Linked DNA regions of Homo sapiens. The protein of the gene in region 6 interacts with the protein of the main gene of each other region in a biochemical or structural test. Each region holds a gene or a part of one and is shown on either strand. Other genes may lie near its edges. The genes, in order: KDM5C, MECP2, EHMT2, DNTTIP2, PADI4, H3C15 and SETDB1.

Region 1 (3,500 bases), on a different chromosome or scaffold from region 6:
TGATCCAGGTGAGCTGAGACCATCTGGCATCAATACCTATGATCCTAGCCCAACACTACCTCAGCCCTCCATCACCTACATGCACGGGCATGTTGAAGTAGTCAGCTTTAAAGGAGTCGGCCATCTCGCCAAAGCTCTGCAGAGTGTATTCCCGGGTAGCCTGCTCAAAGCCAAAGGCTTCTGGGGGCCGCTTACACTCCTGAAACCCAAAGGAGAACATGTCACCAAAACAGAGGCAAAGAGGTGAAGAATCCTCCCAAGTGGAACTGGAATATAAGGGGTAGGGAGGGAGAAGAGCCCTAGGTCTGCACTCAAGGCCCCTGAGGCAGGCCTTACTTTACAGCTGTACCTTTTGCTCTTACCACTTCGGCTTAGTCTTTTCATTCCCCATCATGCTTTTGCTCAGTTCCTCCCTACTGAAATGTCCTTTTCCACTTTCTTTCATTGGTTCCTCAAAACTCAATTCCAGTCTCACAACTTCCAGGGAGTCATCTCATGCTCTTTTCTTCCTTTAGGACTTTATCTAAATGGCTCTGACTTTAATATGCTATCCTGTGTTCTTCTGCCACCATTTTTCCTCTCTAGCTAAAATGTGATTCTTTTTTTTTTTTTTTTTGAGACGGAGTCTTGCTCTGTCACCCAGACTGGAGTGCAGGGTCACAATCTCAACTCACTGCAACCTCCGCCTCCCAGGTTCAAGCGATTCTCCTGCCTCAGCTTCCCGAGTAGCTGGGATTACAGGTGCCCGCCACCACGCCCAGCTAATTTTTGTATTTTTAGTAGAGATGGGGTTTCACCATGTTGGCCAGGCTGGTCTCAAACTCCTGACCCTGTGATCCGCCCGCCTTGGCCTCCCAAGTGCTGGGATTACAGGCGTGAGCCACCACGCCTGGCCTCTAAAATGTGGTTCTATGCAGGGTGCTTAGAGAAGGTTTTTTATGCCCAGACTAGAACTGTAAGGCTGGGAAAATGGCATTGAATATTCCAGTACCTTGAAAGATGGAAAACAGGGCCGGGCATGGTGGCTCATGCCTGTAAACCCAGCACTTTGGGAGGCTGAGGTGGGGTGGATCACCTGAGGTCAGGAGTTCGAGACCAGCCTGGCCACCATGGTGAAACCCTGTCTCTACTAGAACTACAAAAACTAGCCAGGTGTGGTGGCAGGCGCCTGTAATCCCAGCTACTCAGGAGGCTGAGGCAGGAGAATCGCTTGAACCCGGGAGGCAGAGGTTGCAGTGAGCAGAGATGGCATCACTGCACTCCAGCCTGGGTGACAGAGCAAGATTCTGTCGCAAGAAAAGAAAAAGAAAAAAGAAAGATGGAAAATGAAGACACTGGCTTTTACAGTATCAAACCCTCCACTAATCCTGTTCTTGAGACTGTCTCAGAAGATAGGATGTGGGTCTACCTCATTTTGTACCTATGTTCATTATTTTAGATGAGAACAATATGTACCCCAAAATCAGACACACACCATGCTTATGTTTGAAAAATAAATGTCCGTCTGGTCCACTGACTTATAACCACTTAGAGAAGAGAGTCAAGTAGAGTCGACAGTCTTGATACTGTTGGTATCCAAACTCCTCCCCAACTAGAATCTCCACCACTACCAAGGCCAATATGCACTGCCCTGATTTTTCCTCATCTGTGTATGTCTGTCTGTGTGTATGTATGCATGTGCACACCCGGTCTCTACAACCACAGTTGAGTCCCTAAGATAAGGCGAATGTCTGCTCTACAGAAATCCAGAGGGAAATGTAGAAGGTAAGTACCGAGAATTTGGGTGAAGGTAGGAAGTTCATGAAATGTACCTGCCCAACTTCCTGGCTGCTTGGCCCTTACTGCTGCTTCAGCTGCTCTCCTTACTGCCCCTATACCCATAGTAGGCATGCTCTCCTGCTATACCTCTGTTCCTGCTAGTCCTCCACCTCCCAGTCCTGAACAGCCAACCACCTCTCTAGTTAAAGCCTGTAGCACTGCCTCAATCTAAATATAACAAGAGGAAAACAACTAAATAAATATTATACCCATGATACACCATCTAAAAAAATTCCAGACCTTAATTAAACTTAGTAATATAGAGAAATGGTTATAAAGCAACAAATGAAAATATATAACAAGATCTCAAACTTGTTAAAGATAGTTACATATAAGTAACAGCAAAAAGATGAGAAAAAAATATATCAAACTATTAACAATGGTTATCACTGGGTGGTGGGAACACAAGTAATTTGCCTATTTTCCAAAATGTCTTTTTTTTTTTTGAAGACAGGGTCTCATTTTGTTGCCCAGGCTGGAGTGCAGTGGCATGATTTTGGCACACTGCAACCTCCGCCTCCTGGGCTCAAGCGATCCTCCCACCTCAGCCTCCCGAGCAGCTGGGACAACAGGCGTGCGCCACCATGCCTGGCTAATTTTTGTATCTTTTTTGGTAGAGACGGGGTTTCGCCATGTTGCCCAGGCTGGTCTCAAACTTCTGGGCTCAAACGATCCGCCCACCTCAGCCTCCCAAAGTGCTAGGATTACAGGCGTGAGCCACCGCGCCCGGCCTCAAACTTTCTAAAAAAGAAAAAAAAAAACAAAACAAAAACTCAGAAATTGAAAGAACATTTTTTTCTTAATATTCCTATCCTTCAAGTCTCATTTCTGACATTTTCCCTGATTATTACCCTTAGCTATTTTCCTCTCCTCTGAACTTCTATATCTCAGAGTTTCTAACACACAATTTAGCCTCTGTTTATATGTCACCACATATAGTCTAATTATGATGCTTACCTCTCCAGGTGGTCTGGGAGCTCTTAGAGGACAGAAGCAAAGGCTGAATCTCCTGCTCCTTTCTCCCAAAGCTCTGCCCAGCCTAATCCCACCACAGAGACCCAAAACCTAAGACTATGGCTGAGCTAAGAGGCTGCCCTCAATAAGGCCAGATGAAGGAAGGCAAGGAAGCCCTATGAGGCAGATGTGGAGTGGGGAGGCCTTACCGCCATGACACACTTTGGGCACCGCCAGACACCCTTGGGGATCTCAGGCAGAGGAGGCAGCAGGCAGAAGATGTGGTAGTTGTCATCACAGCCATCACACAGCAGGAGCTTGTCATCCTCATCCCCTCGAGAACACATCCGGCAGACATATGACTCAATCTGCCAGGGGAGAAGAGCAAAAGTTCTCCATTGGAAATCCACTGTGTTTGCTGGCTGAATGATTTACAGCCCTGTATAGGCTAGTCATGCTAGGTCTGGAGCTCAACTGCACGTATGTACCATCTCCCCAAATAAGCAGGTAGAGCTGCAAGAGCAGTCTTTTATCATCCAGTCTTGAATCCTCCCATTTTTATTCATCCAATAAACACTTACTAAACCCGTATTCAGAACTACGCTGGACTCTAGCACAAAGACAAGACATGGTATCCTTCCAAGTATATACAGTACTCTAGAGACATGTGTTCATAAAAATTAAAAATTGCCAATAGCGGTCCATAAAGGGCACTGTGGGAGCCTAGA
Region 2 (3,500 bases), on a different chromosome or scaffold from region 6:
GAGCCACCATGCCTGGCCCCTCTATTTTTATCAGGTGTTACAGAAAAGCTTCAAAATCATCATGGAAGAAAATTATCATTTTTACCAGTACAAAACTTTTATTGCATCCCAACCAAGCTAAGATGAATACAGAATTGTTTCAACAGAAGTTACCATTATCATAATTCAAGACAAAAATCAGCCGGCAATTACATGAGTTGGAAAACAAACTACTCTTATGTCACAGTCTACCCTAAAGCTCCAACTTATGTCAGAATTTAAAATACACACACATATACACAACCCTGTGGATTCCTCCTCATTTATGTAAAACCTACTTTTGTGATGATCTGCTATTTTCTTGAGTCTTCTGGAATGAACACTGTAGCCCCACTCCCGGATAAGGAGAAGATACCACTTCCAGGGCTTAGCACTGCCCCTGGCTTGAAGCAGATACTCAAATATTTGTTGGGTGAATGAATGATTGTCTGCTGATAGGGCTGCCCATCAAGCCTCATAAAGAAAAAATTCAGAAAAAAGCAACTTTATAGAGAAAATAGGAAAAAGTTTAAGAGATATTTTGCTCACTTGAAGAAATCAGCATTTGTTAAAGGTGAAGACTGGATTGACTGGTTCATCAAGTGGCTTAGACACAACTGACTAAGTGGGCTATACCTTATCCCACCCCAAAGTTAAATACAAAACAGGTATTTTTTTTTTTAATCACAGGAAAAACACAGGGCAACTTAACTATAAAATTATTATTTTTATTTTTTATTTTTGAGACAGAGCCTCACTCTATCGCCCAGGCAGGAGTGCAGTGGCGTGATCTTGGCTCACCGAAACTTCTGCCTCCTGGGTTCAAGCGATTCTCCTGCCTCAGTCACCCCAGTAGTTGAGATTACAGGTGCCCGCCACCACGCCTGGCTAATTTTTGTATTTTTAGTAGAGACGGGATTTCACCATCTTGGCCAGGCTGGTCTTGAACTCTTGACCTCAGGTGATCCACCCGCCTCAGCCTCCCAAAGTGCTGGGATTACAGGCATGAGCCACCGCATCTGGCCCTTTTGTATGTATTAAATACGTATGTATGAATATAATACATCATCAGGTTTTTTAGGAAGAAAATATAGATGACTATTGATCTGTTGTTAAGAGTAGGAAAGGATTTCCTGGCGGGGCGCGGTGGCTCACGCCTGTAATCCCAGCACTTTGGGAGGCAGAGACGGGCGGATCACAAGGTCAGGAGATCGAGACCAGCCTGGCTAACATGGTGAAACCCTGTCTCACAAATACAAAAAAATTAGCCAGGCGTGGTGGCGGGCGCCTGTAGTCCCAGCTACTCGGGAGGCTGAGGCAGGAGAATGGAATGAACCCGGGAGATGGAGCTTGCAGTGAGCCAAGATCACGCCATTGCACTCCAACCTGGGCGACAGAGCGAGACTCCGTCTCAAAAAAAAAAAAAAAAAAAAAAAAAAGAGTAAAAAAGGATTTCCTAAGTATGAAAGCAAAAGAATAAATCATAACATAAATTTTATATATCAGAAAGACAAGAATCAAGACGTAAGACAAAACAGGAAAATATCTGCATGACAAAGAGTTAACATCTTTAATACATTAAGAGCTATGACAATGATTATTGAGGTTTAGCCTCAGTAATAATCCAAGCGGCACCAATTTAAAAGATGTATATCCAATTCTGGGACGATATGGGAAAATGGCACTTTCTCAGACTGTTGTGGGAACTGGGATAGCCATTTTGGACAGTGATGTGGTGGTATCCACCAGAAATTCCAAGTCTAGGCAGCCATTCTTCAAAATGACTGGCACATGAGGAATTTCAATCCTGTAGCATTTTTAATAACATAGAGAGACAACGAAATGCATGACGGTAAGTCAGCCCTGGACTACACTGCTATTTAAAAGAAATGAGGCAGAGATGAATATATGAGATGGAAAAATGCAGAATATGTATATATAACACCATCCTGAGGCCAGGCACGGTGGCTCACGCCTGTAATCCCAGCACTTTGGGAGGCCAAGGCAGGTGGATCGCCTGAGGTCAGGAGTTCGACACCAGCCTGGCCAACATGGTGAAACCCATCTCTACTAAAAATACAAAAATTAGCTGGGTGTGGTGGCAGGCGCCTGTAATCCCAGCTACTCAGGAGGCTGAGGCAGGAGAATCACTTGAACCCAGGAGGTGGAGGTTGCAGTGAGCCAAGATTGTGCCACTGTACTCCAGCCTGGATGACAGAGCAAGACTCCATCTCAAAAAAAGAAAAAACAAAACAAAACAAAAACCCTCCTGTTAATTACAACACAAAAAGTACACAGTTTAGTCTTAGAAGACTTAGAAGGATCTACATTAAGCTATTAACAGCAGTTATTCTGGGTAGTGGGAGCAGAGATTAAGCGGGGAGCTTTCATTTTTTTACCTGATACTTTTTTTTTTTTTTTTTTTTGAGACCGAGTCTCACTCTGTCACCCAGGCAGGAGTTCAGTGGTGTGATCTTGGCTCACTGCAACCTCCGCCTCCCAGGTTCAAGTGATTCTCCTGCCTCAGCCTTCCGAGTAGCTGGGACTACACGCTCAAGCCACCATGGCCAGCTAATTTTTGTATTTTTAATAGAGATGGGGTTTCGCCGTGTTAGCCAGGCTGGTCTCGAACTCCTGACTTCAGGTGATCCACCCGCCTAGGCCTCCCAAAGCGCTGTGATTACAGGCATGAGCCACCTTGCCCAGCCACCTGATCAATTTTTAAGTGGTTTGATTTTTCTATAAATCCATGTATTATTTTAGTAATTCTTTAAAAAGTAAAAGAAGAAAAATAGATATCAAGCATTTATCTACTAAAGACGGGTACTGTCCTTTGAGAATTCCCTCAAAAGTTCTTTGAAGCTCAAATGGCTACATCTTTCCCATTCATAAGATACTTTTTAAATTTCCTCTTTCTACATTTCTTTTTAAAAGTTTATTTTCAATTAGCTTCCTCAGGTTGAACTCTCTGTACATTTCTTAGGAGAAACTGTATGGTGTCAACACTGCCTGTTTTATAACATCCATTCGTAATCTGTAATCTGAGAAAAAGACTCGTAAAAACCCAAACCACCCTCCAGGCCTAACATCTTCCAGAAGAAACCCATTCACTGCCCATATTACATTTAGTCCACACAATTTCTGAGACAAAGCACAAAGCACTAGCCATACAACTCCCACCAGCATAAATACGTGGAGTACAAAGAATGTCCTGTCAGCTGGGCCCAGAGCACACCCCACAGCAGTAAAAGAGAATGACAATTTGAGTCACAGGATCAGGAGCAGAATCAAATTTGGGACTTGAGGCAGTGTGATGCTCTTCTGGTCTTCCGCTTCCTTCCACACCTTCTATTCTCCTTCAGCCAAACCTTGCCCTCACATAATCCCTAAGCAGGCTATTTCTTATGGATGTCTACAACAGCTTCACACTGAGGTGTCAGAAACCACTAGAGAGACAACAAAGAACGACTTAGGGTCTCAGT
Region 3 (3,500 bases), on a different chromosome or scaffold from region 6:
TCGGGAACTGAAGAAGGCGATGCGTGGAAATCGCAGGTCTTGGTGCAGCATGAAGACCCGGACGGGAATGATGTTGGGGTCACACAGGTGGTTGATGAAGCGGCTGATGTTGCCATAGTAACGGGCATCTATGCAGTACACCTCTCCATCCTGGGGCAGGGGGATGGCACTCTTCACATCTCCCCCGACCCTGCTTGCCCTCCCCACCCACTGACTCCCCAGTCCCTCCTCCCCAGGTTTCCATTTGCTGACTTCCCAGAGGCTCCTGAAAGCCAGCCCTGGGGAGCAGCAGGGTAAGGAGGGTCTCCTGCTCACCTTGTTGTCTAAGTCGAAGAGGTAAGAATCATCCTCTCTCACATCAGCCTCAGCATCAGAGATCAGCTCCCCGACATACCTGTGGGACAGGAATCCATGGTTCTGAAGGTGAGTGTGGGCTATTAGGAGGTGGCTCCAGGCCCCATCTCTCTTCACAAGCCTGTGGAATCTGGAATGGGCAGGGCTGGCAGGTGTGGGGAAGGGAAGGCCTGGAGCAGCAGTGGTGGGCAAGTGAAAGGGCAGCATTCCAGCCTTGACAGAGGAAGCCTTCAGTCAGCACAGAGACAGACAACAAGCTCTGTGGTTAAGGGGATTAATGTGTAGGGGCAGTTGGCCTGGGTGGGGAAGTTCGGGTTTGGACACAGAGAGGTTTGTGTTCCAGGAGCCACCCGGCAGGAATGGGCGATATGGAACAGGAGAGGGGCCAGGACTGCAGGAAGAGCCAGAGGTACAGGAGTGGCAAGGAACTCAAGGCATGATTCGGGGCAAGAGCACCCACACATATCTGGACACCAGAGGGAGGAGAGGAGCCAGCTATCTAAGGAGGGTGAGCAGACATGGGAGATTCAGACACACGGAGAGGACGTGGGTGGGAAGTGACTGTCAAGAGACAGCTTCAGCAGAGTGGGAAGGGCAAAGGCCGATTTTGGCAGGGACAGGCAGTGAGTGGATGGTGGGGAAACTGAGGCCCAGCAGGAAGGGGCTGCTTGCCAGAGAAGTTGAGAGATGACATGATGGAAAGAAACTGGATGGTCTGTTGAACAGGCAAGTATGGTTAGAGGACTATCTTTTTTAAAGGCCAAAGAATGGTCAGGCACGGTGGCTCACGCCTGTAATCCCAGCACTTTGGGAGGCCGAGGTGGGCGGATCATCTGAGGTCAGGAGTTGGAGACCAGCCTGGCTAACATGGTGAAACTCCGTTTCTACTAAAAATACAAAAAATTAGCCGGGTGTGGTGGTGCGCACCTGTAATCCCAGCTACTTGGGAGGCTGAGGCAGGAGAATCGCTTGAACCTGGGAGGTGGAGACTGCAGTGAGCCAAGATTGTGCCATTGCACTCCAGCTTGGGCAACAAGAGTGAAACTCCGTCTCAAAAAATAAATTAAAAAAAAAAAAAAAAAAGAGCCAAAGGAGACTAAAGTAAGATTGAGGGTTGTGGGATGGCAGCCAAGAGAAAGGGGGAGATTACAGATGCTGGGCAGAGAAAGAACTGATGGAGAGGGACAGGCCCCTGAGGAGGTGGACAGATAGGTAGCTGTTATCACCTCCACTCTACAGACAAGAAAAATAAGGCTCAAAGAGGTTAAGTAACTTGGCCAAGAACATCCAGAAGCAGAGAGGGGCTCAAACCCAAGTCTGTTTGTCTCCCAAACTGGCACTTTCTCCAGCTAGGAAGGGCGAGGAGGGGGTGGAGGGGAAGGTAGAGGGTGGAGGTGGAGGGGAGGGAAGACAAGCTCTGTGGTCTGGGCAGAGTGGAGGCAGGTGCCATTCTCAGCTGGGGGGATGGGGGTCAGAGGCGGCTGGCTGCTCAGCTGCAGGAATAGGGGTCAGAGGAGGCTGGCTGGAGAGTGGCCAGATGGAGACATGTGACTCATCAGGGCAGATGGCTGAGAGGGAGGCCTGGCAGTCAGCAGTGGCCATGTATCCCCTTCCCACCAGGTGTTAAGGTGCTCCCGGTGACTTACTCGCAGATGAAGGTCCCCTGTGGGATGGTCTGCAGGGCGCGGACCCCCCAGCCCATCTTGGCTGTTCGGTAGAGCTGTAGCCGCACCCTGGGGGTAGGAGAGATGGCGCTGTTGGGTGGAGGCCCTGGAAAAGCCCCAGGGGCAGGGAGGAAAGGGTGAGGTGGGGAGAGGGTGGGCTGTGGAGCAGGGCCTCACTTGATGCCACTCTGTACGACCCGGTTCTTGCAGTTTCTCCAGCATGAGCACGCCTGGTTACACTCGAAAATCAGCGGAGGCTCAATCTTGTTAAATTCCTGGAGCAATCGCCCATCCTAGGGTGCGGAGGGGAGGATAGTGGTTTCTCTGTGGGGCCCACCTCAGCTGCCCACCCAGGAACCCCAAGACTCTACAGAGACAGGGAAGTTGGGGTTGGGGAGGTCACACAGGCTCTGAGATCCGAGAGCACGAAATGCAGGAGCATCATCCCTGGTTTGCATAGACCTGGGCACACGCCCATCGCTGTCCCAGCCACATCCCAGGATTCCCAGGCCTTGCCCAGTCCTCTCAGTCACTTCCCCCACAGGGTAGGAGGTGAGGGACATGGTCCCAGGGAGCTGGTTTATTGGAGGCTGGCTCCTCTGAAGGAGGGGCCGGGTGTCTGTGGCCAAGGCAAGGGGCACGCACCTTGTCATACCAGCACCGGATGCTGAGCTGGCCGCACAGGCAGTTGGAGCTAGAGCAGTCGTCCACACACGTGCAGTGCTGGGGCGAGGAGGCAGAGGTCAGCTCAACCCCATGATCGGTCTGGGCCCCTCTACTCTTGATGCCCCCTGACCCCCTAACCACTGTCCTTTCTTTGGGGTCCATGTGTTACAACAGTGGGTGGTGATGGTCCTAGGGTGACGGGTAATCAGTATGGTGGTGTCCCCAGGGCTACTGGGAGCTCATATGATACCTTGCTGTGACCTAGGAAAAGGATCCCTCCCCTGGTGGGGATGCGACCCCACACCAGGGCTCCCTTTCAGCCAACCCTTCCTTGGCCAGGTGCCTTTGCTGGTTTGAAGCTTGTCCAACTGTACTTGGCAGCTCTCGGTGTCCTTTTGGGGAGGCCCCGGGCCCCCTACTCACCTGCAGGTGGGTGATGTTGCGATCGATGTTCATGGTGGACGTCTCGCAGTTCTCTGAGATGTACTTGTAATCCTCAGGGCAGGGCTCCCCATCCACACCGTTGACACAGGGAATGGGCACGTTCTCATAGCCCCGAGCCACGTCCCTGCAGAAGACGGGAAGAAGGGGCTGGGAAGCTGGAAAAGGGGGTGAGGAGCTACTCCAGGTATAAGGAAGAGAGTTGGGGAGGTTCCTGGGGCTGGGGGCAGGGGAGTAAGGTTGCCAGGTAAGATGCAGGACAGCGAGTTAACATAGAATTTTAGATAAACAAGAAATAGCTTTTTAGTATGTCCCAAAAATTACACAGGACATTCTCACACTAAAAAAGTATGCATCTGTGCATCTGAAATTCCA
Region 4 (3,500 bases), about 56 Mb from region 6:
AACTCCTACAAGTTATTTAATTTTGTTTCATTCATACAACAAGTATTTAGTTAGTGCCTACCATGTGCCAGGGTGCTCCATATTACAGTAACATTACTAGAATACCATCCTCAACTTTCCTTCAAGCTCTCTGGATAACTAGTCGAAATGGCAGATAGAAGTAATCTATATATATATATATTTTTTTAAAAAACCTCTACTTATAGATGCACTATTGTGGCTGCAAAGATGTGAAAATCTATACATAATGTGTTTATGGTACTATATTTTACAGCCCTTAGAAATCTGTAATTATTTTCTTTGGACTCATATATAGACCAACAGATACAGTTTAATTGTGCAGTTATGTTGTATAAGCTGAAAATATATAGCCAAACATATCTAAGCATTTTAATTAAGTCACTGTACTTACTCTGCGTTTTTTCTGAAGTTGATACTTTGATTCACTATATGGTGGAACACAGTGGTTTTTTTCAAAATCAGGTGTAATGACGGCTTTCTGCAGAAGCTATAAAAACATAAAATTGGTTTTAAAATAATGTCAGAATGTTATATAAGTTTTTCAACAGTTTAAACTTCTGTAAGTTTTAAAATTTTTAGTCAGCCTGGCAAAGTGGCTCACACCTATAATCCTAGTGCTTTGAGGAGGCCAAGGGAGGAGGATCACTTGAGGCCAGGAGTTTTAGACCACCTTGGTCAACATAGCAAGACCCTGACTGTAAAAAAAAAAAAAAAAAGAAAAGAAATTAGTTGGGCATGGTGGCACACACCTGTAGTCCCAGCTACTCAGGACGCTAAGGCAGAAGGATCACTTGAGGCCAGGAGCTTGAGGCTGCAGCAAGCTATGACTGTGCCACTCACTCCAGCCTGGGTGACAGAGTGAGACCCTGTCTCCCCCCAAACCCAGCTCCCTCCCAAAAAAAAAAAGAAAAAAGAAAAAAAAGGCCAGGCACGATGGCTCATGCCTATAATCCCAACTCTTTAGGAGGCCAAGGCAGGACAATCACTTGAGGCCAGGAGTTCAAGACTAGCCTGGGTAACATAAGAAAACGCCATTTCTCCAAAATAAATAAATAAATTTGTGCAGTCAAATCTGTTTATCTTTTCCTAAATGATTTCTGTACTTTTGTTACTTGACTAGGATGATTATATTCTCCTAAAACTCTGTGTGACTAAAGGAACCTCAGGTTAATTAGTATTTTTCTCAGTACAAGAACCAAGTAAGACTGCTCTGTAGCCCTCAAAATAGTTTACAGGAATATAGTACAAGCATTAATTTGGGACTGACATTTGAAATGATCAACTCAGAAATTAACAGTCAGGCACACAATTCAGGTTCAGGCCTAGATGTTTCTGTGTGGTATAGGTAGCCGTCTAGGCTTTCCTATCACTCATAAAAGGGGGCATGATATTTACTTAACAAATGATTAAGAGTTTGCTGTGAGTCAAGTACTGTAGTACATTCAAGGACAGTGGTTCTCAACTGGGAGCATCTGGCAATGTCTGGAGACATTTTTGGTGGTGGTGAGGATAAGGAAGAATGCTACTGACATCTAGTGGGCAAAAGATAGGGATGCTGTTAAACATCCTACTATGCACGGAACATCTCACAACAAAATTATGCAGCCCAAAACATCAGTAGTGCTGAGACTGAAAAACCCTGTTTTAGGAATATAAAGAAAAGATGGTAAGTTAATATATCACATGATCAACAATGAATCAGATCTATGCTAGATGTTATGGAAACAGAGGGGTTGTGAGAAGGACTGGAGGTAAAATATTCCCCAAGGGCAACGATCAATTATTTTGCACTTGCTTGGGGAAAAGCAGGGTAAGTTCAGGCAACTACAGTAGTCTTCAGTGGCAAGAATAGAGCAGATGACAGCTGGGTGGGGTAGAGAGGTACTTTGAAGGATTCAAGAGAATACTGTCACATCTGTGTGTGTGGTGTGTTTTTTGGGGCAGGGAGGAGAGATGTGGTCTAGCTATGTTGCCCAGGTTGGTCTCAAACTCCTGGGCTTAAACAATTCTCCTGCCTCAGCCTCCCAAAGTGCTGGGATTATAGATGTGAGCTACCTTGCCCAGCCGGATTTGTGTTTTTAGACAGAGAAATCTAGAAGTGTGGAGGATGGCTTGAAGAACAAGATGAAAACAAGATCAATAAGGAAGCCACTGGAGTAGTCCAGATGAGAAGCAAAGGCCTGCACTAGCTGGTGACAGTCGCTTGAAAAGGAGGAAGCAGAGAAATATCTTCCCCTAGAGGCTTGGTGACTGACTACAAAAGGAAAAGAGAGTTTGGTTTCATTAGCCAGAAAAAAGAATACAAGAAGAGGATTCCTGGTTCAGGCAGGGAAAGGGGAATTAGTGACGTCAAGTACCTGAGGACATCTAAATGAACAAATAGGTACTTGGATTTAAAGGTCTGAAAGTGACAGTGAGAAGCATCAAGGCTAGAAAATATAGATTTAGGAGAAAACAGTGCAAGGTGTTGGCTAAAGCTAAGGGTTTGGGTAAAGTTACCTTAACAGTAATTCCTTCTGAAATTATATGTAAAATGTCTATATGCACATGTGCATTTTTTTCCGGGTGGAAGAGGCAGGCAGGCATTCACAGCTTTCAGATTCTCAACAGTCTACACTAGTTAAGAACTTAAGAACTAAAAGTATAGCAAGAAAAGGGAAAAAAACAAAACCCCTGGGATCATAATTGGTGGGTGTAAGATGAGGAACACTGACCCTGTATTGATTTATTTTTAAAGCATTATCATTCATAGATAGGATTTTATTGTAAAAAGAAATGACTGTTTTAGAGAGAAGGAAAAAACTAACACATTAGGCCAATGTGGTTTCACTGTAGGAAAATTAAGTCTTTTACCAAGGACTAATTTCTAAAAGTGATTGGTTAGTTCTGTGAAAACCTAACAGCACAATTAACTTACCTCATTTTTCTTTTTCTCCTTGATCTGTGTTAGGGTTCTCTTGTTAGACTGTAGTTTATCTGCATTAAAATTAATATACAAACCACCCAACTGCTTGATACTCAGACCAGGGTCTATGCTGCTGCTTGTCAACTTCAGACTGAAAAAGAAATCATCACTTAAAGATCAAGTAATTAAATCAAAATGGAAACATATAAGATGGCATTTTAAAAAATCACTTATTCTTCTCTTCCCTTGTATTGTCCACAATAAAGAAAAAAAAGCATCTTATTTTTATGAGGAATTCCTGAAAAAAAACTCTAAATAAATATATTTTTCATCATTTTATTTTATTTTTTGAGACAGGGTCTCACTGTTGGCCCAGGATGGAGTGCAGTAGTGACCACTGCAGCCTTGAACTCTTGGGACTCAAGTGATCCTCCTACCTCAACCTCCCTGGGTGGCTGGGACTACAGGTGCACACCCAACACCTGGCTCCATAATGTCAAATGAATGAGCCATTCCATGAAGAACCCAAGGCAGTGATTTTCTCATTCCCCAGGCTAACATTTCATATTTTTAT
Region 5 (2,154 bases), about 130 Mb from region 6:
TAACAGGATCCCTGGGTGTTCTCTGAATATCTTGGACCCTTTTGAGCCAATATCTGGTCTCAATTTTAATGATCTCAAGCCATCAAGTTTTATTTTCTACAGAGGAATCTGAGTCTTTATGTCGAAGCCATAAAAGGCAATATAAAAAAGAACACCGAGGAGATGAATTACTTCATTCCACAAAAATCCATCGCTATCAGTACGTAGGTGAATGCCCAGTTGTAGGTGAGTTTAAAGAGGGATATGCCCAGATTCTCAGCGGGGCTTACCCCTCCCCTGCTCCCTCCTCCTCCTCTTCTTGGAAAGGTCCCGTGGGAAACTCAGAACGAACTAGGATCATGCAAAATTTTATAGCCCAAATACATGTCTGGGAGCAAAAGACACACACAATAACGTGGCCTTCAGTGCAGCCTGTTAACACTTTTCAGTTTGTTTTGTGATAGTCAATTCAACCATGACAAATGAGTGAATGAATGAATGATACCAACAACATCTTGACCTCATGTACAAAGTGACTTAAAAAAACTTTATTGCAGCTTCTTAGAGCAGAACTGAGTGTGCAGTGCTAGGACCATGTTGGGATCTTCAGAGTGGGAAACTGGGACATCACAGGAGAAGAAAGCAAGCCACTGCTGGGAGGGCTGGCCGCCCCCAGGGAGCCACAATATTCACAAGAGCTCTTGCTTGCCACACTGCAGAGGACCCAGCGACATCTGGCCAGGAGGGAGAGGACGCCAGGGAAGATGGGCTCAGGGCACCATGTTCCACCACTTGAAGGAGAAGGGCTTTCTGCGCACGTTGGTGCCGCAGTGCACCTCCCCATGCCTGATGTGGTAGGTGAAGAAGTCGTTGATGAAGGTGCACTGGAGGCCCAGTGGCTCCAGCAGGGAACACACCTTCTCCTCCAGGCAGCAGCGGCCGTTGATGACGGGCCCGAAGGGCTTGGGGATGCCCAGGTGCTTCCCTAGCACCAGCATGTTCACCTGCAGGGAAGTGAGGGTTCAGGTCACAGGCAGCAGCGGGCAGCCTGCAGCGCAATCTGAGCGGCCCCACCCTTCTCTGACCTTTGGAAATAATAGCCCCTCCAGGGGTGGTGGCTCAGACCTGTAGTCCCAGCACTTTGGGAGGCTGAGGCAGGAGGATCGCTTGAGCCCAAGAGTTTGAGACCAGCCTGGGCAACATGGTGAGACCCCATCTCTAAAAAAAGTATTTTTAAAAATTAGCTTGGCATGGTGGTGCGTGCCTGTGGTCCCAGCTACTTTGGAGGCTGAGGGAGGAGGATCACTTGAGCCCAGGAGGTCAAGGCTGCAGTGAGCTGTGATTGTGCCACTGCACTCCAGCCTGGCAGCTTGGGCGACAGAGCGAGACTCTACCTCAAAAATAAAAATTGCTGGGTGTGGTGGCTCATGCCTGTAATCCCAGCACTTTGGGAGGCCTAGGCGAGTGGATCACCTGAGGTCAGGAGCTCGAGACCAGCTTGGCCAACATGGGGAAACCCCGTCTCTACTAAAAATACAAGAATGAGCCAGGTGTGCCTGTAATCCCAGCTACTTGGGAGGCTGAGGCAGGAGAATTGCTTGAACCCAGGAAGTGGAGGTTTCAGTGAGCCGAGATCATTCCAATACACTCCAGCCTGGGTGACAGAGCGAGACTCTGTCTCAAAAATTAAAACAAAATAAAAATAATAGCCCCACTTTACAAATGAGAAAACTGAGACCCAGACGTGGAAAATTGTTTGCCTAAGGCCACCCAGCTATACTTGGACTACAGCTATTAGACTCCAAGTTCCATACTCTTATTTATTTTAAATTTAAAAATTTAGATTTGGGGGTACATATGCATATTTATTACATGGGTATATTGATTACTGGTGGGCACTGGGCTTCTAGTGTATCCATTACCCAAACAATGAACATCGTACCCGATAGGTAATTTTCCAGCCCTCACCTCGCTCTCATTCTCTCCATTTTGGGGGTCCTCAGTGCCTATTATTTCCATCTCTGTGTCTATGTGTATCCACTGTTTAGCTTCTACCTATACGTGAGAACATGCAGTATTTGATTTTCTGTTTTAGTTCACTTAGGATAATGCCTCCAGCTCCATCAGGTTGCTGCAAAGGACATTATTTAATTTTTTTTTTTTTTTTTTTTTTTG
Region 6 (2,518 bases):
GGGACTGAACGGCAGCCCCAGCGCAGTTCTCCCCACGTTTGTCCGCAGAACCCCGGCGAGGCCGAGGTGGTCATTTCCCTCCCTAGCCGGATGGCCGCGCCGGGTGAGGCCGGTTTGGGCGCGAAGCACGGGCGTGTGGCGCTCCACTTCCGCAAAGGCCAGCCGCGCTCAGGACCGCGAGCCCTGAGCGTCCCCCTAGTGACCCCTGGCCTCGTGCCCGACGCCCCGTCTCTCCTGCCCCGGCCCCCCCGCCACGCAGGGCCCCGGTCACGCGCGGGGGGAGCCGGACCGCCAAAGCCCGCGAGCCGGCGCCCAGGAAAGCGTCCGCAGCCCGGCCAGTGCGGATAGGCCAATTGGCCGAAGTCGGCAAAGCTCAAGACGGCACCGCAGCAGGGGGACCCGACCCCGTTTTGTTGGGAGCCTAAGCGGAAGTGCCTTCCCCGCTCTAATGCCGGAGGAGCACGGAGGGCAAGCGGTACAGCTTCTTCCAAGTGCTGATGTGGGTGGCTCTGAAAAGAGCCTTTTGGATACGATGGAACCTCCGGCCGAACCGCCACTTCTTAAGCCCGCTCTCCACGGATGCGGCGGGCCAGCTGGATGTCCTTGGGCATAATGGTCACGCGCTTGGCGTGGATGGCGCACAGGTTCGTGTCTTCGAACAGCCCCACCAGGTAGGCCTCGCTGGCCTCCTGCAGCGCCATCACGGCCGAGCTCTGGAAGCGCAGGTCCGTCTTAAAGTCCTGCGCGATCTCGCGTACCAGCCGCTGGAAGGGCAGCTTGCGGATCAGCAGCTCCGTGGACTTCTGGTAGCGCCGGATCTCCCGCAGGGCTACGGTGCCGGGCCGGTAGCGGTGCGGCTTCTTCACCCCGCCCGTGGCCGGCGCGCTCTTGCGGGCCGCCTTGGTGGCCAGCTGCTTCCTCGGGGCCTTGCCGCCGGTCGACTTGCGAGCAGTCTGCTTAGTACGGGCCATAGCGAACCAAAACACAGGCTTACCAGCGCAGCGGCGGGGAGAAAAACGAGCTCCTAGCCCCGCCGCAGCCGTCTTTATAAGCACAGTCTTTTCCCGATTGGGCGGAACAATAATTGAAAATCCCGCGCTGGCTGTCCATTGGCTGTGACGTCACCCGTCCTAAAGTCACCGGTTGGCTTGGGCAGATTCCTCCCTAATCCCGCCCACCCCGCCTCACTTTCTACTTACCAGTTGGCGAAGTTTCGCAAGCTTGTTTTTCCCCTTTCCTTCAGGGTGAAAGTCATTTTCCATTGCAGCTTTGTCAGATTGTTCCCTTTCCGCCCTTCGCTTCCTTAGAACACACTGCCCGCAATACCCCCCCTTTCTTGCTGCGCCCTACAGCTCCCGCGTGGAACCTCATTCTTCCATTTGCCCCCCGCCCCCAGTTGCTACTTGGCGGATCGTTTTTCGCCTGTCGGGTGCCTTTTGGGTGGGAGAGGTGCCCGCCCCCAGGACGCAAGATTCCGCCTCCGAGGCCCTTACTCTCCGCCGCCAGGGCGCTTTGGAAAACAAAACAGAAACTAAGACTTAAGTCAGCTCAGTGAAGCCAAGACCCAGCTCCGCCACACTAGCGAGCACTACCCGCTCAGGGCCCTCCCCATCGGGGGTGGGGACGAGGAGCACGTCCCGCTGGTGCCAGACTAGGTCTAAGTGTCCGGCCATAGCCTGCGGAAACCACTAGGGAAGCGCGCGCTCCGCGCGCAACACTTCAGCGCGTTGGGTACTGCCCGCGGCGCTGGTGTTTGTGACTGTGTGGAGCGGACCGTGGCGGCGCCCAGGACGTTTGGTGCCTGCACCTGCCCTGGGAAGTCCTAGGACTGGGGACCCACTCATCGAAGAGCCAAGGCAGTTACGTGCTCCAGATGGAAGACGGCGCGCACACACACACACCCCGCCCCGCCCCGCCCCGTCCCGTCCCGTCCCGTCCCGTCCCGTCCCGTCAGCTCCAGGTTCGCTATTCACTACTGAGGAACGCTGGACTGAGAGTGGCCAGCATTAACAACTCTTTTATTTGAAAACGTGGGTGGCTCTGAAAAGAGCCTTTTGAGTTCACAGGTGCCCCTTCGAGACGCGGGCCGGGCTGGGCCCACTTGGGCCGGACGTCAGCCTCACTTGCCCTTTGCCTTGTGGTGACTCTCCGTCTTCTTAGGGAGCAGTACGGCCTGGATGTTAGGCAAGACGCCGCCCTGGGCGATGGTGACTTTGCCCAGCAGCTTGTTCAGTTCCTCGTCGTTGCGGATGGCCAGCTGGAGGTGACGAGGGATGATGCGCGTCTTCTTGTTGTCCCGAGCCGCGTTGCCCGCCAGCTCCAGGATCTCGGCGGTCAGATACTCGAGGACCGCAGCCATGTAGACGGGCGCGCCGGCCCCCACTCGCTCCGCGTAGTTGCCTTTGCGCAGCAAGCGATGCACTCGCCCTACCGGGAACTGAAGGCCAGCGCGGGACGAGCGCGACTTGGCCTTGGCGCGGGCCTTGCCTCCTTGCTTGCCACGACCAGACATGACAGC
Region 7 (3,500 bases), 1.1 Mb from region 6:
TATTTTATTTTTATTTTATTTTATTTTTTTTTTAGACAGAGACTTGCTCTGTCTCACCCAGGCTGGAGTACAGTGACGTGATCTCGGCTCACTGCAGCCTCCGCCTCCCGAGTTCAAGCAGCTCTCCTGTCTCAGCCTCCGGAGTAGCTGGGACGACAAGCGTGTGCCACCACACCCGGCTAATTTTTGTATTTTTAGTAGAGATGGAGTTTTACCATGTCGGCCAGGCTGGGGAGGTCAAATTCCTGACCTCAAGTGATCTACCTGCCTCAGCCTCCCAAATTGCTGGGATTGCAGGTGTGAGCCACCACTGCCAGCCAGGATACATTTTCAGATAACAGCAAGGTAAATAATGAGGTAAGGGTGAAAGTACTGTACTTTGGGCTTACTTTGGATTTTTGAGGAACTAGTCTGGAAACTAAACCACTATTTAAAACATTTTTCTATAGAAAAAGCATTCTAAATTCTAAACAGAGACACTTTGGAATGTGGCCCATTTAAATTGAGGACTGTCTATACTTAAATATATATACATCGTAATGGATTCTATATCTCTTAATTCCTCTACTGGCTTTGACCTTTTCTGCATGTGTTCCAATATTAGGGCAGTGACTAATTGTGAGTCTTTGGTGAAGGACTTCTACTCCAAGCTGGGACTACAATACCGGGACAGTAGCTCTGAGGACGAATCTTCCCGGCCTACAGAAATAATTGAGATTCCTGATGAAGATGATGATGTCCTCAGTATTGATTCAGGTAAGGGATGAGCTTTGGATAGGAGAGTCTCAGGACTGAAGTTGAAACACTGGAAGATGAGCAAATAGAAGATAATAGAAGAGAGGAGAAACCATTGTCACTAACTCCATATTTCTAACTGCCTGAGTTGGCTATTAAAGAAAAAAATGCAACATTGTTAGTATCATAGATGTTCCCTATGTGCTACACCCTGATTGTATTACTTTGCTTTCCTCATTCTGTGTAACCCCTATTTTGGGGTATTCCATCAAAGAGTGGAATTGCCAGGACTTATAGTGAGTGTATGTTCTGTTATTAGAATATAAAAAATACAGTTGGTTTTTGTGTATTGATCTTGTAGCCCGCAACCGCATTAAACTCACATAGTTCTAGAAGCTTTTTGTTGATTCCTTAGGATTTTCTTTTTTTTTTTTTTTTTTTTTTTTTTTGAGATGGAGTCTCGCTCTGTTGCCCAGGCTGGAGTGCAGTGGCGCAATCTCAGCTCACTGCAACCTCTGCCTCCTGGGTTCAAGCAATTCTCTGCTTCGACCTCCCAACTAGCTGGGATTACAGGCAAACCCCCTGCCCCACCACCACACCCAGCTAATTTTTGTATTTTTAGTAGAGACAGGGTTTCATCATCTTGGCCAGGCTGGTCTTGAACTCCTGACCTTGTGATCCACTTGCCTTGGCCTCCCAAAGTGCTGGGATTACAGGCATGAGCTGCTGCACCCAGCCAATTCCTTAGGTTTTTCTAAAACTAATTCATGCAAGTAAAGTCTGTTTTACTTCTTCCTTTCTACCCTGGATATCTTTCTTTTTCTTTTCTTATTGTACTCACTAAAACCTTCAGTACAGTGTTGAATAAGTTTTAAGAGCAGGCCAGATACAGTGGCTCATACCTGTAATCCCAGCACTTTGGGAGGTTGAGGTGGGAGGATCCCCTGATCCCAGGAATTTGAGACCAGCCTGGCCAACGTAGCAAGACCTCATCTCTACTAAAAATAAAAAAATTAGCCAGGCATGGTGGTGCACCCCAGTAATCCCAGCTACTTGGGAGGCTGAGGTGGAAGGATCTCTTAAGCATAGGAAGTTGAGGCTGCAGTGAGCTGTGATTGTGCCACTGCACTCCAGCCTGGGTGACAAAGCAAGACTCTTGTCTTCAAAAAAAAAAAAAAAAAAAAGGGTTTCCAGAACAGACATCCTGGCCAGGCGTGGTGGCTCACGCCTGTAATCCCAGCACTTTGGGAGGCCAAGGAGGGCGGATCATGAGGTCAGGAGATCCAGACCATCCTGGCTAACACGGTGAAACCCCATCTCTACTAAAAATACAAAAAATTAGCTGGGCGTGGCGGCGGACGCCTGTAGTCCCAGCTACTTGGGAGGCTGAGGCAGGAGAATGGCGTGAACCCAGGAGGTGGAGCTTGCAGTGAACAGAAACCACACTACTACATGTATACATATGTAACTAACCTGCACAATGTGCACATGTACCCTAAAACTTAAAGTATAATAAAAAAAAATTAAAAAATAAAAAATAAAAAAAATAAAGATAAACCAAAAAAAAAAAAAAAGAAACCACACTACTGCACTCCAGCCTGGGCGACAGAGTGAGACTCTGTCTCACCCAAAAAAAAAAAAAAAAAAAACAGACATCCTTTTCTTCTTCCTGATGTTGATATGAAAGCATTTGGTGTTTAACCATTAATTATGTTAGCAGTAGGTTTTCTATAGATGTCATTTATTAAATTAAAGGAATCCCCTTCTAATCCTAGTTTGAGAGATTTTATCATAGCCTAATTGGATTTTGGATTTTGTCAGCTTTTTCTGTATCATTCTCCTATGTTCCTTTTGTCTTTTATCATATTAAGAATGTATTACAGTAGTTGTTTTTTTAGATGTTAAACCAACCTTGCATTCCTGGAGTAAACCAGCCTTGGTCTTGATGTATAATTCTTTTTATATGTTGCTGGATTGGATTTGCTGATTTAAAAAAAAAAGATCTTGGCTGGATGCTGTGACTCATGCCTGAAATCCCAGCACCTTGGGAGGCCGAGTTGGGCAGATTGCTTGAGCCCAGGAGTTCAAGACTAGCCTGGGCAACATGGTGAAACCCCTTCTCTAATTTTTTTTTTTTTAAAAAAAAAGAAAGAAAAAAATTTTTACATCTGTTTCATGAGGGCTATTGGTTTATAGTTCTGTTGTGGTGTCCTTGTTTGGCTTTGGTAGCAGGGTAATATAGGCCTTGTAAATGAGTTGAGAAGTGTTCCCTCCTCTGAGTTTGTATGGAATGATATTTCTTCCTAAAAAGTTTGATAAATTCAGTGCTGAGGCCATTTAGGCTTGGACTTTTCTTTGTGGATTTTTAAAATCTTTTATTTTGGAATAATTTTAGATTTATAGAAAAATTGAAAAAGTAATAGAGTTCCTATATATCCCTCATCTAGTACATATGTCAAAACTAAGAAGCAAACACTGGTATATTACTTTTATATAAACTTCAGGCTTTATTCAGCTTCTGGACTTTTTCTGTTCCATGATCTAATCCAGGATATCACATTAAATATATTTCCAGTGTGATGTTTATTTTCTTCCTTTTACTTACTGGGTTTGATTTGTTCTTCTTTTTCTAGCCTCTCAAAGTGGAAGCTTACAGGATTGATTTTAGACCTTTCTTCCTTTCTAATATAAGCTCTAAAGCTATTTATTTCCCCGTAAGCATTGCTTTGCTGCATCTCATAAATTTTTTTCCATACAGTGTCACT

What was found.
Region 1: the proteins of H3C15 (region 6) and KDM5C form a complex in vitro, tested with the Homo sapiens proteins (3 studies listed by BioGRID, with this or other methods).
Region 2: the proteins of H3C15 (region 6) and MECP2 form a complex in vitro, tested with the Homo sapiens proteins (one study listed by BioGRID).
Region 3: of the proteins of H3C15 (region 6) and EHMT2, one has a biochemical effect on the other in vitro, tested with the Homo sapiens proteins (one study listed by BioGRID).
Region 4: the proteins of H3C15 (region 6) and DNTTIP2 form a complex in vitro, tested with the Homo sapiens proteins (one study listed by BioGRID).
Region 5: of the proteins of H3C15 (region 6) and PADI4, one has a biochemical effect on the other in vitro, tested with the Homo sapiens proteins (one study listed by BioGRID).
Region 7: the proteins of H3C15 (region 6) and SETDB1 form a complex in vitro, tested with the Homo sapiens proteins (one study listed by BioGRID).

Annotation. Positions count from the first base shown.
Region 1 is NC_000023.11:53,211,708-53,215,207, forward strand, and holds part of KDM5C (lysine-specific demethylase 5C), read right to left. Parts: intron 3,141-3,500; coding exon 2,982-3,140; intron 200-2,981; coding exon 80-199; intron 1-79. UniProt on the Homo sapiens protein: Histone demethylase that specifically demethylates 'Lys-4' of histone H3, thereby playing a central role in histone code. Does not demethylate histone H3 'Lys-9', H3 'Lys-27', H3 'Lys-36', H3 'Lys-79' or H4 'Lys-20'.
Region 2 is NC_000023.11:154,087,718-154,091,217, forward strand, and holds part of MECP2 (methyl-CpG-binding protein 2), read right to left. Parts: intron 1-3,500. UniProt on the Homo sapiens protein: Chromosomal protein that binds to methylated DNA. It can bind specifically to a single methyl-CpG pair. It is not influenced by sequences flanking the methyl-CpGs.
Region 3 is NC_000006.12:31,880,699-31,884,198, forward strand, and holds part of EHMT2 (histone-lysine N-methyltransferase EHMT2), read right to left. Parts: exon of another isoform or gene 3,253-3,500; coding exon 3,108-3,252; exon of another isoform or gene 2,742-3,107; coding exon 2,664-2,741; exon of another isoform or gene 2,312-2,663; coding exon 2,196-2,311; exon of another isoform or gene 2,088-2,195; coding exon 2,001-2,087; exon of another isoform or gene 1,975-2,000; intron 863-1,974; exon of another isoform or gene 698-862; intron 424-697; exon of another isoform or gene 395-423; coding exon 316-394; intron 151-315; coding exon 1-150. UniProt on the Homo sapiens protein: Histone methyltransferase that specifically mono- and dimethylates 'Lys-9' of histone H3 (H3K9me1 and H3K9me2, respectively) in euchromatin.
Region 4 is NC_000001.11:93,872,707-93,876,206, forward strand, and holds part of DNTTIP2 (deoxynucleotidyltransferase terminal-interacting protein 2), read right to left. Parts: intron 3,078-3,500; coding exon 2,939-3,077; intron 509-2,938; coding exon 413-508; intron 1-412. UniProt on the Homo sapiens protein: Regulates the transcriptional activity of DNTT and ESR1. May function as a chromatin remodeling protein. Part of the small subunit (SSU) processome, first precursor of the small eukaryotic ribosomal subunit.
Region 5 is NC_000001.11:17,362,351-17,364,504, reverse strand, and holds the end of PADI4 (protein-arginine deiminase type-4), read right to left. Parts: intron 984-2,154; coding exon 750-983; 3' UTR 501-749; downstream 1-500. UniProt on the Homo sapiens protein: Catalyzes the citrullination/deimination of arginine residues of proteins such as histones, thereby playing a key role in histone code and regulation of stem cell maintenance.
Region 6 is NC_000001.11:149,851,108-149,853,625, reverse strand, and holds H3C15 (histone H3.2), read right to left. Parts: upstream 1,019-2,518; 5' UTR 972-1,018; coding exon 561-971; 3' UTR 501-560; downstream 1-500. Other genes in the region: H2AC19 (histone H2A type 2-A), read right to left, coding at 2,120-2,512. UniProt on the Homo sapiens protein: Core component of nucleosome. Nucleosomes wrap and compact DNA into chromatin, limiting DNA accessibility to the cellular machineries which require DNA as a template.
Region 7 is NC_000001.11:150,929,363-150,932,862, forward strand, and holds part of SETDB1 (histone-lysine N-methyltransferase SETDB1), read left to right. Parts: intron 1-604; coding exon 605-756; intron 757-3,500. UniProt on the Homo sapiens protein: Histone methyltransferase that specifically trimethylates 'Lys-9' of histone H3. H3 'Lys-9' trimethylation represents a specific tag for epigenetic transcriptional repression by recruiting HP1 (CBX1, CBX3 and/or CBX5) proteins to methylated histones.